Linked DNA regions of Homo sapiens: regions 2, 3 and 4 are each reported to be linked to region 1. Evidence: microRNA targets listed by miRTarBase, many of them from high-throughput screens and not tested one by one. Region 1 holds a microRNA gene; each other region holds the end of a gene's coding sequence.
The links. Region 1 holds the annotated microRNA hsa-miR-1470 (GCCCUCCGCCCGUGCACCCCG, at 1,489-1,509, opposite strand). A microRNA usually pairs through its seed, bases 2 to 8, with sites in the 3' UTR of a target mRNA and lowers its output. Matches are read on the target gene's strand: a 7mer-m8 pairs with bases 2 to 8, a 7mer-A1 pairs with bases 2 to 7 and ends in A, and an 8mer does both.

Region 1 (3,174 bases):
AGGTTGGGTATGTCTGCCTAGAAAAGGCCTGGTTCATAGTAAGAAAAAATTTTTTTCAATGTTGTGATTATATATATCATATGTACATATGTTGAGGTCTCCTGAGACGCCTGAGAACTGGGCAGTGGAGAAACAATAATGAACTAGACAGGACTCCTGGCCTCATGGAACTTACATGTTAGTGGAGGGACCAAATCAACAGACAAACTGGTGGATGGATGTTTGGGGGGCTGGGCGGAAAGATGTGTGTGGGGATGGTTGGGTACTTGCTTGGTTGTATGGATAAATGAGTATTTACTTGGGTGCTGGATGAATGGGTGGGTAGATGGGAAGTGAATGGGTGGGTTGAGTGGGTGTTTGGGTGAATTAATAGGTGGTTGGAGGGGTGGGTGGATAGGTGATTAGTTCATTGGATAGGTAGATGAGTGATTGATAGATTGAGGAAGTGGATGAGATAGCTAGGTGGTTAGATATCTGGATACATGGTGGATAAGACAAGACAACAGGCCATGATGTGTGTCTGATGGGGTAGTCCTGGAAGCTGTGATCCTGGGAACTGGGTGGAGAAGGTGACTTAGGACTGAAGACCTAGGGCAACTCTAGGGACATGGAGGTGCTGAAGTCCAGTGTGGATGATTGGGAAGGAGGGAGTGAGCTTGTGGTTGGAAGGTAGCTGATGGGGGGCAGGGGACAAAAGGCTAAAAATTGGCTGGGTGGAGTCTTCAATGACCTATCAATGACCCATCAATGACCCATGGGGGAACTTCTCTGCACCCTCCCCACTCTTTTAGTGCTTTTAGCGAGCCTACCATTGGAAGTACCAGTGGGACGATAAGGAGCCATTGGGGTGTGGGACGACAAGGGTGTTGTCATGGTAACGGGGCCTCTCCCTGGACTCAGGCCGTGCGGGCCCTTTAAGGGTGACCCGCTTGGCCACTCCCAACATGGCGGCGCGCCCGCTGGCCGCCCCCCCCGGGGCGGCGAGGGGGGGGGGGGTGGGGTGGGGGGGGCGCCCCGGACCTCCCCATCATGGCGGCGCGGCGGGGCTGTCGCGCTGAGGTCACGGCGGCGCGCCGGGGGGGCGGGGCGGCGGGGGGAGCGATTTAAAGGGACAATGTCCCCCGAGCGGTGGAGGCGGCGGCGGCTGCGGAGGCCGCGGCACCGGCACCGGGAGCGGCAGCGGCGGTAGCGGCAGCGACGGCCGCACCAAGGAGGGGAGCTCCGAGCCCCGGCACCTGGCCGGCGGCGCCGCCTCCCCGGTGAGGCCCGGCCCGGCCTGGGGAGCCCGCGGGTGGGGCGGAGCCGTAGCGGGGCGGGGGAGGCCCCGGGCCGGGCCGGGCCAGGCGGGACCCCCCGGGGCGGGGGCGGGGGCGGGGCCTTCAGGGGCGGGGCCTGGCCGGGGGCGGGGCCGTGCAGGTGGGGGGAGGGGCGGGGGTCTTGGGGCAGGTGTCCCCCCTACCTCGGCGCGTCCCGCGGGGTCTCCTGCCCCGGGGTGCACGGGCGGAGGGCTCATCCCCCGGACCCTGGACCCCCGAGGAGTGGGCCCGCGCGGCGCAGCCCCCACCTCTGCGACCCCTGGGGGGCGTCCGGGTAGGAGCCCCCTCCCCACGCTGCCAAAGTGCTCCGAAGTTGCGGTCCCGCCCGTTCCCCGCGGGCAGTGCCCACCCAGTGGACAACCGCAGGTGCTTCCTCCGGGCCTGGGTAGGGACCCCCACCAAGACTGCCAGCCCACGGAGGAGCCCCCTGGGAATCCCCAGGCCCCCGAGGGCAGCGCCTGCAACCAGGCCTGGCGCCCCGGCCCCGCCCCGGTTGCCTGGGCCCGGCCTCCCCACCATCTCCCTGGGGAGGGCGCCTCATTCCTGCCCTTCACTTTCCGCCGTTACCTTGAAGGTATTTATAGGTAGAGAGGACAACCCCCGCTCCCCAGGGTCCTCATTTCTGGACCAGGAGCCCTATCGTTTTCTTTCGCCCGAGGACTAGAGCAATCTTGGTTGGGGGGTGGGGGGAATGGAGGAGCCCAAGCTGGGTATGCATGAGGGATAATGTTGGGGAGAAGCGAAAGGGTTAATGCTGGGGTCACTTGAGGCTGTGTGTGTGGAGGGGGGTGAAGGGGTTAATGCTGGAGAACCCTAAGGTCCTGTGTGGGGGAAGGGTTGGAGTGTGGGAAAAGTGCAGGGATCATTGGTATGGGACAACCCAATGGAGAAAAGTAAAGGGGTAATGATGGGAGACTCCTGACGGTGTATAGGATCAGAGTGTACAAGTGGCTGGGATTCTTGCCGAGGAAACGAAGGCATGGCAGTAGGATGTGCGTGTGCATGGATGTGAGGGCAGGACTGGGGAAAGTGCAGCTGTGTGTGAATGAAGGGAGGCGTCTGGAGAAATGGTAAGATTGATGGAAGAAGACCAGGTGGCTGAGTGTGCATGTGTCAATATGGGTAAACTGAGGCAGTGCAGGATCTGTATAAAGGGGAGGAGTTATTGATGGGGAGACGGAGGCATGCTGAGGGTAGGGGCCATTGGGATAGAAGGTGTGTGGAAAAGGTCTGAACACCATTAGCTCCCCTGGGCTGGGAGGTAAACTGAGGCAGTGAGCTGCAAAGTTGAGGACTGAGGTTTTGAGGGATGGGAAACTGAGGCAGATTCCCTTTCCTCCATCCCCTAAGCACTTCCTTCTCTCTATCCCCAGGCCCACAATGCCCCGCTGAGCCGGTGCAGCAGCTGAGTGGATCCAAGCAGAGAAAATCCGATGGAGGGGTCTCTGGCAGGCAGCCTGGCTGCACCAGATCGTCCCCAAGGCCCAGAGAGACTGCCTGGCCCGGCGCCAAGGGAGAACATCGAGGGTGGGGCCGAAGCTGCTGAGGGGGAAGGTGGCATCTTCCGGTCCACCCGTTACCTGCCTGTCACCAAGGAGGGCCCCCGAGACATTCTGGATGGCAGAGGTGGCATCTCTGGTAAGAGAATGGGCCGTGTGGCCCCCAGGGAGCATCCAGCCCATTCCCCAAGGCTCAGAGAGAGTCAAGTCACCCAGCGCAGCAGCGGCTGAGCTGGGATGCTGATTCCGCTTGGGTCCAGAGCCTTTTCTTTGTACTCTGTTTAGTTTCTTATTTGACAGTTGTGAAAACAGGTGTCCTGGGAGCCAGTGACCAGACCAAGGCTCCCCACTGGGTGGTA
Region 2 (3,174 bases), not on the chromosome of region 1:
TTGTTGCCCAGGCTGGAGTGCAGTGGCATGGTCTCGGCTCACTGCAACCTCCGCCTCCCAGGTTCAAGCAATTCTCCTGCTTCAGACTCTCAAGTAGCTGGGATTACAGGCACCTGCCACCACGCCCGGCTAATTTTTGTATTTTTAGTAGAGATGGGGTTTCACCATGTTGGTCCTGATCTTGAACTCCTGACCTCAAGTGATCTGCCCACCTTGGCCTCCCAAAGTGCTGGGATTATAGGCGTGAGCCACGCGCCAGGCCGCTTTGCCATTTTAGCAGGCTTACCAGGCTTAACCACATATTGTGCGTGTGTGTGTGTAAACACTTATGTATATGTGTTTGTGTGTATACACAGACACACACACATATACATAAATGCATAATAAAGTACCTAGTACAATGGGTGGCACACGCTGGCACTTGATGACTGTGTTTTCTTCCTCACTCTTGTTTCCCAAGGTGGCATGTCACAAACAGCTTTTAGGCTGCTCAGACACAGTTCTTTCATTCCATCAGATGCCACTGAAGATTCGCCCTCCTGATTATTAATTATAATAATTCACTTCAGAACCCAGGGATTTTATGGAACATCAACTAGGTGACAGGCAACACATTTGAGGCAGAGATGATTATTTAGCTGATGAAAAGCCACTACCAACAGAAAGATTACAACCTCTGGAGTAGTTATTGCTACCTTTGAAAAGGTCAAAATCCGAAAAGATCCCAGTGATTCCTAACGGCAATTTCTACTTGAATCTATTCAAATAAAAATGGAGGTTTTAATTAATTAGGCTGCAGGCTTTGCCCAATAGTTCACATAGGTTGTATTTCAGTTTAAGTGCAGAACCAACAAAACAAAATATCCTTTGGGTGTTTAGCAAACTAAAGGAAATTGTACCTAATGTTTTGTGTATTTCTTTTAAATCAAAACCCTAAGATCACTACAGGAAACCACACCAGAACGTTATGTGATATCAAGTCATACACTGATGATTAAATATTACCTGTTATTTATATACAGATGGAGAAATGCCGAAACTAATCTCTATTCAGGAAAGGTCAACTAGTAAACAAACTTATAAATGCACAGTGACTAAAAAGGGAATAACATTAAATCTTAAGGCAGCATTGGTTGAGTCTTCTCTGGTAAAGGAAGTATTACATATGTCAATGACTAGTGTATGATTTTTTAAGAAACCAATTAATTAAAATAAATACTAAAATAATGTTTTCAAAAAGAAAGAGGACTGATTTTAAGACTTCTACAAAATGAATTTGTATTAGAGTTTTAATTTGGGATTAGAAAGCATATTAGGAGCATAATGGAATAAAGTTACACAAGATTTTCCTCAAATGCAAAGTCAAGGTCCCTAGAAATTATTGTTACTCTTAATGAGCACTCTTTGAGCTCCTTTTTCACTTGTTGTTGCACTCAGAGTAGTTATTAGAAAATTCTGCTGATTTTTAAATAATGTGGTCAGGTTGCATTTTACCTGAGTGAAATGGTTTCAAACTGCATTACCTACCATTATGCGCTAATTTTATAACTACATCCTTAATGCTGAGTTTGCTTACCTGGTGGGGTGCCTAAATCATCGTGTCCCAAGTATTGGTGCCATCCTAAAATGATGACATGTAATTGTGGCTGAAAAGTCATACATTGACAAAAATATTCCAAATCTCTTTAATAAAGAAAGTTTGGGGATCTGTGTTTTTTGCAGCTTGTTTGGTTAGCTTTTCTTGGCTAAGACTAAAAATTACCTTTAGTTGTTTTATAGATCCAGTGGTATATGCTGACCGAATAATGGGATGACACGAAGAACAGACAGAAACCTCAAAAAATGTTCCAATCAAAGGAGCTCTCACATGGTGCTGAGAAATAAAACATAGGCACTTCTGCTTCAGGAGGTTTTCACATTTTGATCACAGATTGGCTTTTCCAAGCCATTTTCCTTCACTACTAGAAATTCCCTCATGGTACAAACTGTCTAGTTCACTAGAAGCCTTGTTCTCACAGACACCCTTCTGGTGCGTGAATCTTTTATCATAAAATTCTCTCCATTGACAGCCGAGATGGGGTTCCTACCGCTGCTGGGAGCCGTGGGAGCAGCCCAAGTCCTTGTCAGATGACCAAGTGTCGCTTGAGGATACTCCCCGACACAAGGCTGCCTGCCCTCCAGAACCACCTTATCCACCAACAGAAAAAAAAGGCGCATCAAGCGCAATCTGTCTCCTGGAAATAGGGAACGTGTCTGCCTCTCTCTAGTTTCTAATTGTGAGTGTAATTCAACAAAGTGTACAGTCTTCCTAACGTTCTAAAGCTACTGCGCTACTGGGATTTTTTTTTTAAACGACTACTTAACAGTTTCCTTTTTTGTTTGTTTGTTTTGAGAAAACCTGTGCTAGAAAGGCACTAGAGAAAATGAATTTCCTCACTCTTGTATGTAACAATTATACATTGTGTTAGATTCTAAAAGCTAACGAAGTTGACGCACATTTGGATAAACCATCCGAATGATTTAGACTCATCTAGTTTCATTTTAAAAAGCAAACCCCAAGTCAAAGGGAGGGCAGGCCACACCAGGGGAGAGCCGCCAGACCGGGAGGTCACACCTGGTCAGCCCCTGCCTCCAAGGAGCTCCAGCTGCTCCAACCCTGGCTGGCCCGAGCAGGTGACAGGGCAGTGGCCGGGCCCCAGTGGGGGCTCACTGGCAGCAGCTGTGGGAGCCAAGCCTCCGGGAGACCTGAGTGAACGAGACAAAGGTGAAGTTCTCACAGTTTTCCAGCTTGACCTTCTTGGCTAAGTTTGGGACAATTCCCCGAAGAGAGCGCAGCCCCATCCTCTGCTCCTCATACCACACGCTGCCCATGTCTGTGGCCTCCTTCCTGGCAGTCAGGTAGAAGGGGGACTTGGCCTCCATTTGGGTGGGCGGCCGGTGGATGTACATGTACTTGTAGAGGAGGCAGTAAGGGCACTGTTTGTGTCCCCGGGAATGCTCATGGTAGATCTTCCCGTGACACACTCTGGTGGAGCCGCTCCGACTCTCCCGCTTGACGCTGTCCGTCCGGGCAAAGTAGGGCTGGTTTTGGGGGTCTTTGAGCAGCTCGATGTCACCATACATCAGATCCGCATGCTCCTGCAGCGTCCGCATGTTCAGGTACTGGCTGTTGTA
Region 3 (3,000 bases), not on the chromosome of region 1:
ATTCAACATGAGGTACTTCATATTTATGTATTTTTTCCTTCATAAATAATGCTGTAAGCTACTAAATTCAAGCACACTGATGCACAAGTGGCTACAGTGTCTTGAATTAGCTGAGCTTATTTAAACACCTTAATAAACAAAAAAGTTCAGTGCAATAATTATGTAGAAATTAGACCATTTACTTAAATACTATTTTAAGATATGCTTAAAGAATGTCACATTAGAACTGCTAGCCTAGTTCCCCTTTATCCCCAGAATGAACAACGACAAAGACTGCCAGCCAGATACGTTGGGGAAAAGCATCTACAGTGTATTCTGCTTAATAAAGTTGTGTTTATAGAATAAAGTTGCCTGCTTTGTTAGAACAATGGTTTCTAGTTTTAAAAGCTACAAAATCCAAGATTACAAAAGTAAATAAAGCAAGCATATTAGCCTTCATTCCATTTCATTGAAAATGCATAAAGGACAATAGGGTTTAAAATGTAAAATTTCTTATTCTAAATACAATTTTCAAATTTTACCCACAGCTCTCGGTACCAGCCAATCAGATGGTAGATATGTTTTAAAGTAATAACAATTAACATAAAATTACATTATTCTATACACAGTGTACAGGATTTCACACGACTTTCACCAGCAGCTCACTAGTCACATGGAGGCAGCTAGCAAACATGGGCACTGACAGTGAGCGTTAGTGAATGAACGCACTGCACCTGAAGACTATCACACCCACCTCAACAATCTGATAGGATGCAATTAAAGTTTCTTCTCTGGCTTACAAACAAGTGCCTTCTTATAAGGTCTACCAATTTGCACAGCAGCTATGAGTTACTGAAATGTGTAACCATAATTTAAAAACCAAATCTTTTGTAGAAGTGTGCTTTTTAATTGAAAATGTACCTTTGTACTTCAATGCTTTGCCAAACTACCTGTAATCTCCCCAATAAGAAATAATTGTACTTTTAGAACGTTGTCCTGGAAATACTCATCTATAATCACCAGTAACAGCTTTTCATCATCTATGCTAATAGATGTAGGTAATGGCAAGAGTGATTAAAACATTTCCAATAATCCAGTGTTCTCCTCCCTCAGGGAAGCCGGCTGAAGGCAACAAGCCCACATCTACAGGGGAAGAAGTGGCCCAGAGGCACAGTGAATACGTCAGGGCAGTCACTCATGGGCCTTGCTGGGGCCAGCAGGAGGACCATTACTGTCCCACCTCTTACTAGCCAGGTAGAGAGGAGACAGCTCCTGAGCTGGCAAACACACTTGCATGCGCATGGGTGCGCAGGCACACACACACCCCAGGACTAACTCCTGGCTCCAGACAAGCCAGTTTCAGGCTTGCAGAGCAGGAGCAGGAGGCGGCCAAGGACCACACTCTGGGTGGCGGCGGGGAAGCCATCTCAGGATCACACTGAGCAGAAAAGCTGCCCAGAAACACATGGATACTTCAACTGGAAGTGAACACACTGGACACTGCCAGGGACACAGGCACTAAACCAGCACAAGCCAGCAGCGAAGGAGAATTTAATAAGTTTTTCCCTCCTTTGTTTACATTATCTGTGGACAAGTAAGGGAGCTAGATGTGATACTGATGCAGTGAATATTAGGTATAATAAAATGTGTCACTCCAGGCCATTTTTTATAAACCCTGCAGGCATATGTTGGCACTTTAAGATGGCCAGGGGCCAGATTCTAGCAGTCTAGGAACAGGACAAAATTAAAATTAACAAAGAATATAGTATACAATCAAAGTGGATCAGGTAAAGTATATTTCAAATTTAAAAAAATGAACAAAGGTATCTCATTACATTAAATGTAGTGCTACAAAACTAGTTGCTACTCCATTTGTATAAAGAATTGTTTGGTCCTCTTTTAATGGGGAAAAAGAAAATAGAAATTCTACACAGTATGACTTATACAAATAAGCAAACAGTGGGGATCAAAAGCTAAGTGGAGAGAAGAGTTTGGCTTTTTCAAACTGCATATTCTTATATGCCATCAATTAAATTATTTGTAGTATGAGTCTTTTTCAGGCTTCCTTTTTAAACTGTCTTAGTTTAAATTAGTAGGAGTTTAACTTTTTTCTACTGACAATAAAATCTAAAAATTTACTTCTAAAAGAAGTATCTGTATTGAAATTTTTTGTCTTCTAAACTAAAAGAAAAGAAATCTGCTTGTAGAAGTCATGGCCTAAACAAATGCCCCCAGTTCCTTATTTTCCAATTTTACATTGATATTCTGAAGTGTTTAATACCTAACTATCTTATGAATTTAGTAATTTTTTAAATCCCAGAAGCAACAAATGTAAAAGGAATAAAACGAGAGCCAAACACAACCACTGTCTACTTTCTAAATTATTACTCATTACAAGGCAAAACTTCTTTCAAAATTGTACACTGAGGTTTATCTGTTTTGGGGGGTAAGAGGAGTTCTGTTTAAAAATAACTCTTGTTATCACTTTATTTCTGTTCATCAAATAACGTCCAAAAGGAAATTCAAGGTGATCCAAAATTATCTTCAGAGGGACAAAACTGAGAGGGTGGTGGAACGCTTGGGAAAGCACATAATCTCCCCAGGTTCATAGATGCAACTCTAAAAACCACAAAGCCTTAATAAGAACGTTAGCTCTTTTAAGCAGATAGTTAAAAGCGGAATGCTGCATTTTTGCCTGTACATAATTAAAAGGTTAAAAGAAATTAGAACCTGCCTACCGCTTCATTCATTACAAATTACCGGCACTGATCACATATTTGCAGATGAGCTAAGCATCAGGCAAGTTGGAACCAGATGTGCACTTTGGAGCTCAAGCTGCTTCAGGAAGTGAGTTTTCAAGCATAGAATATAAGTTCAGGGATCTGCCCTCCCTGTACCCCAGTGCCATTGGTGCTATCTGAGGAGCACTGAAACTGGACAGTCACTTTGCCACACTGAACTTCTGTCATGCCTTCTTGTCCAAAGTAGCTGAGTTCATTGCCATCCAGTATCACACTGGCT
Region 4 (3,174 bases), not on the chromosome of region 1:
TTTGTATCTTTTTCTACATCATACGGCATCTAGTATGATGTTAACAAATTTAGCTTGTATGATCCCTTTGTGGGACATACACTAAAACTAACTCAGATGGCATAAATTGTTTGATTTTTCTGCAGGGATTCCGACTACAATCTCCTAAAAGCAGAAACAACCTTTTGGGTTTTACCTGTGTTTGAAGAAGAGACTCGCATTTTCCAGAAAGACATTTGATGTTTGTGTTTTATTTCTTTCAAAATATGCCTTGTGGTATGTATGTTGACATGTAAGTGCTTAAAGAAAAGAATTTTAAATTGTGGGAATACGTCTTTGGAGCAAACTTTAATCTCATGTTCTATGTAAAAGACTTAAAAAGTCATACAGTTGCACAAGTAGTTTATGCACTATTTACCCACAAGGAAAAAATTGAAAACATTGTGCCAAACTACAAACAAGTGACTGTACTGTATATATTTTTACTTCTATATCAACATTTGGTTGTATTTGGGGAAGTTGTCCCTGTTAATTTACTAGAAACATTCCAGTGATTCTTGCTATTAACCACCCCCACTTATGTGGATAGCACCTGTAGATCATGGTGGAAAAATATGTTGTGTTACACAATTTACCAAAATTAAAGGATACTGTTTGAAATGTGCCAAATTTTCTTACCTCATCTCACAGATTCACCCACAGTTTAAAGCTCATTAATTATTTTTAAATGGATATATACACACCCAAACATATATATGTATATGTTTGTGTGTGTGTGTGTGTGTGTATATATATGTATATATATATATACACACACACACGTTCTTTTAAAGTTTTAGACTCTACTGTCCTGTGTGGAAACATGAACAGCTAAACAAGGCAAAATAAAGATTTTCTTGTTCCATTGTGTAAGGGTTAAAATTTTGGAAAAGTCTGAAGGCCACAACAGCTAAGTCCATCAGGGACCCAAGTATATGCATTTACAGAACGTTTTACAAGGAAACAAAACAGCTGCTTTCAAAGTTTGTTTTCTAAAAGCAAAATCTGTAGCTGAAAATTATTTAAAGTGCAAAGTTATATTGCTGATACTTTATATCTCAGTTTTATATATTTTATAATAGTCTGGGATAAATTATAAAAATAGCTATAAAATCAACACTAATGATAAATGAAGTATATAGAATGCTTTTATTTAAATAGTTTCCTAAATGTTTTATTCCAGTTTTGTCAAAAGTGCACTCATATCATGGCTTTAGTGTTCTTTCAGTGTTTAATCTTGCAATGCCAATGTCATTTAAAGAAAATGTTAAGGCATCCCAGTTCAACCAAATTTTTCTTCTTATGAGTAAAGTACATTTACTATCAGATAAGATGAACAATTTGTGGCAACAACTGATTTGGGCCATATACCCTTAGTCTGAGGATAACCAATATTTGATGCCACACACTAAACTTAAATCTCAATTTTAAGTACAAATTTTTAAATCACATTTTTTATTCAGTACTCCCCCTACTTTTTAAAAAAAATTTCACAGCCCCAACATTCCTCACTACTACTTTTTCTTCCCTTTTATTCACCACTTGACTTCTAACATTTGATCTCTTTTCTTTGCACAATTGAAGGCCTGTGCATCTGATGACTGATGCATTATGGCACAGATGAGATAATGGATGTGAGAGCGCTTTGTAGATCATAAAGTGCTATACAGATATAGGGGATTAATATTATTAATATTGTTAGTTGTTGTCGTTGTTACTATTCTTATTAATATTGTTACTAACCTATTAACTTGTGAATATATAGGCTGGGGTGGGAGGGTGGAGAATAAGTGGGAAGGGAAAAAGGGGATTTAACAAAAAAAGGGAAGATGTTTCAAAAGGAAAATTTTAAGCAAAATATGAACCTACCTAGTCAATGCCACCTAAATGTATTCACAAACAGAGAAGCAACATTTGAAAGTAGTCAGAGAGAAATGGAAGGAAGCCTGTCATGTATATAAGTATATACACTTCCCGGTCCATGATTCCTTTCACCAGCCTGCTCTATTCCTTACAGCTGGGTCGTAAAATGAACAAGCCTGTGTTCTTGATCATGTGTGTTCCCAGCGTCAGTCTCTTGTGTCTGTGGGGATGAGTGGGTGAGGAGCATTCTGTGAGGCTGGTACAGGCCCATTCCTAGGCTTTAATGCTCTGTTTGCAGTGAGCCCTGGAAAATTACTTAGTGGAAAGGCACCAGATGAAACATGTCTCCTGCCCCATAGCTACCATTCAAAAGGGAAAATAACCAAACTGGAAAACCTTCTTCTATTTCTCTATTCTGATAGCTAGCTGTACTAAATGCTATGGCCAGTCCCTAGAAACTGGTCTTTGTTTTGTTTTTGTTTTTGTTTTTGATTTTTCTGTTTTGCAGCTGAATTTTGGCTTGGAATCACCAACTCTGCCTGTATTGTGATCCCCAAGACTCCAGACCTCAGAGTCACCTGCTGGCTTAGAGGAGTGGAGTGCTTTCTATGTAATGAAAAGGTGGCAATTAATGAAAAAATAAAGAAAATGTTCCATTAATACAATGTGTTTTTATAAAAGTAAATATGGGAGCAGTTGTCCCAGTTTTTTTTCGGTATCAGTTCAGCTTTGGAGAATGGGGTGTGAGTGGGGTAGGACAGCCTGAAACTGTTGGAAACAATTTCCTTGTGAGAACTTGCTATCATAAGTCCTTTGGAATGGATATTCTTTCAGTTGCTCCTATGGAGCCCATTAAGGGCCAATTCTAGGGCATAGTTCATCCCTTTCTCCAAAGAGAATTGTTATTTTAAAGTACCTTTTTAATTGGCCTGCAGTGTATTATATGTTTTTAATATATAAATTAGTGACGCATAACCAGTCACTTTGTACTGAAACATAAAAAGAAACAGAGTTTGAGAAATGAGCAATAGGCCGAGGCAGAAGATGTTTATTCTCTTAATTGCATTTAATATTCCTCTCAGTACATTGTGTTCTGAGATGTTCATCATTTAGCATTTTGTTGGTCCTGTCTCTGCTCTCACAGTTCTTTTTCTTCCTGTCATAACCAGCTGCCTTAGTAGAGTATAAAAATAGTGTTTTGCCCTATCACTGGTATCTCAAGTCAGAAATATATATTATCCTTGGTCTGAAATTCCTGATTACCGCTCCCTTCTAACCTTCCCCCTCTGAGAA

Region 2: the mRNA of KIAA1958 is a reported target of hsa-miR-1470. The part of its 3' UTR that is shown has no 7-base or 8-base seed match.
Region 3: miRTarBase lists BTBD3 as a target of hsa-miR-1470. Seed matches in the 3' UTR shown: 7mer-A1 at 1,543-1,549.
Region 4: miRTarBase lists NEXMIF as a target of hsa-miR-1470. The part of its 3' UTR that is shown has no 7-base or 8-base seed match.

What each region holds. Positions count from the first base shown.
Region 1 is chr19:15,447,883-15,451,056 of GRCh38, reverse strand. MIR1470 (microRNA 1470) reads right to left here and starts at 1,509; the gene lies at 1,449-1,509. It overlaps WIZ (WIZ zinc finger), which reads left to right and starts at 1,101. Exons shown (of 13, transcript NM_001371589.1): 1 at 1,101-1,259; 2 at 2,690-2,954. The coding sequence starts at 2,750. RefSeq lists silencers at 1,077-1,206, 1,257-1,376, 1,727-1,836.
Region 2 is chr9:112,659,602-112,662,775 of GRCh38, reverse strand. KIAA1958 reads right to left here. Exons shown (of 4, transcript NM_133465.4): 4 at 1-3,174. The coding sequence ends at 2,707. Among named protein-coding and RNA genes, the nearest start is that of INIP, 57 kb to the left of the region's middle. RefSeq lists a silencer at 2,081-2,281.
Region 3 is chr20:11,923,501-11,926,500 of GRCh38, reverse strand. It overlaps BTBD3 (BTB domain containing 3), which reads right to left. Exons shown (of 4, transcript NM_014962.4): 4 at 1-3,000. The coding sequence ends at 2,835. Among named protein-coding and RNA genes, the nearest start is that of BTBD3-AS1, 6.4 kb to the right of the region's middle. RefSeq lists enhancers at 828-1,328, 1,329-1,829.
Region 4 is chrX:74,736,450-74,739,623 of GRCh38, reverse strand. NEXMIF (neurite extension and migration factor) reads left to right here. Exons shown (of 4, transcript NM_001008537.3): 4 at 126-3,174. The coding sequence ends at 219. Among named protein-coding and RNA genes, the nearest start is that of RLIM, 120 kb to the right of the region's middle.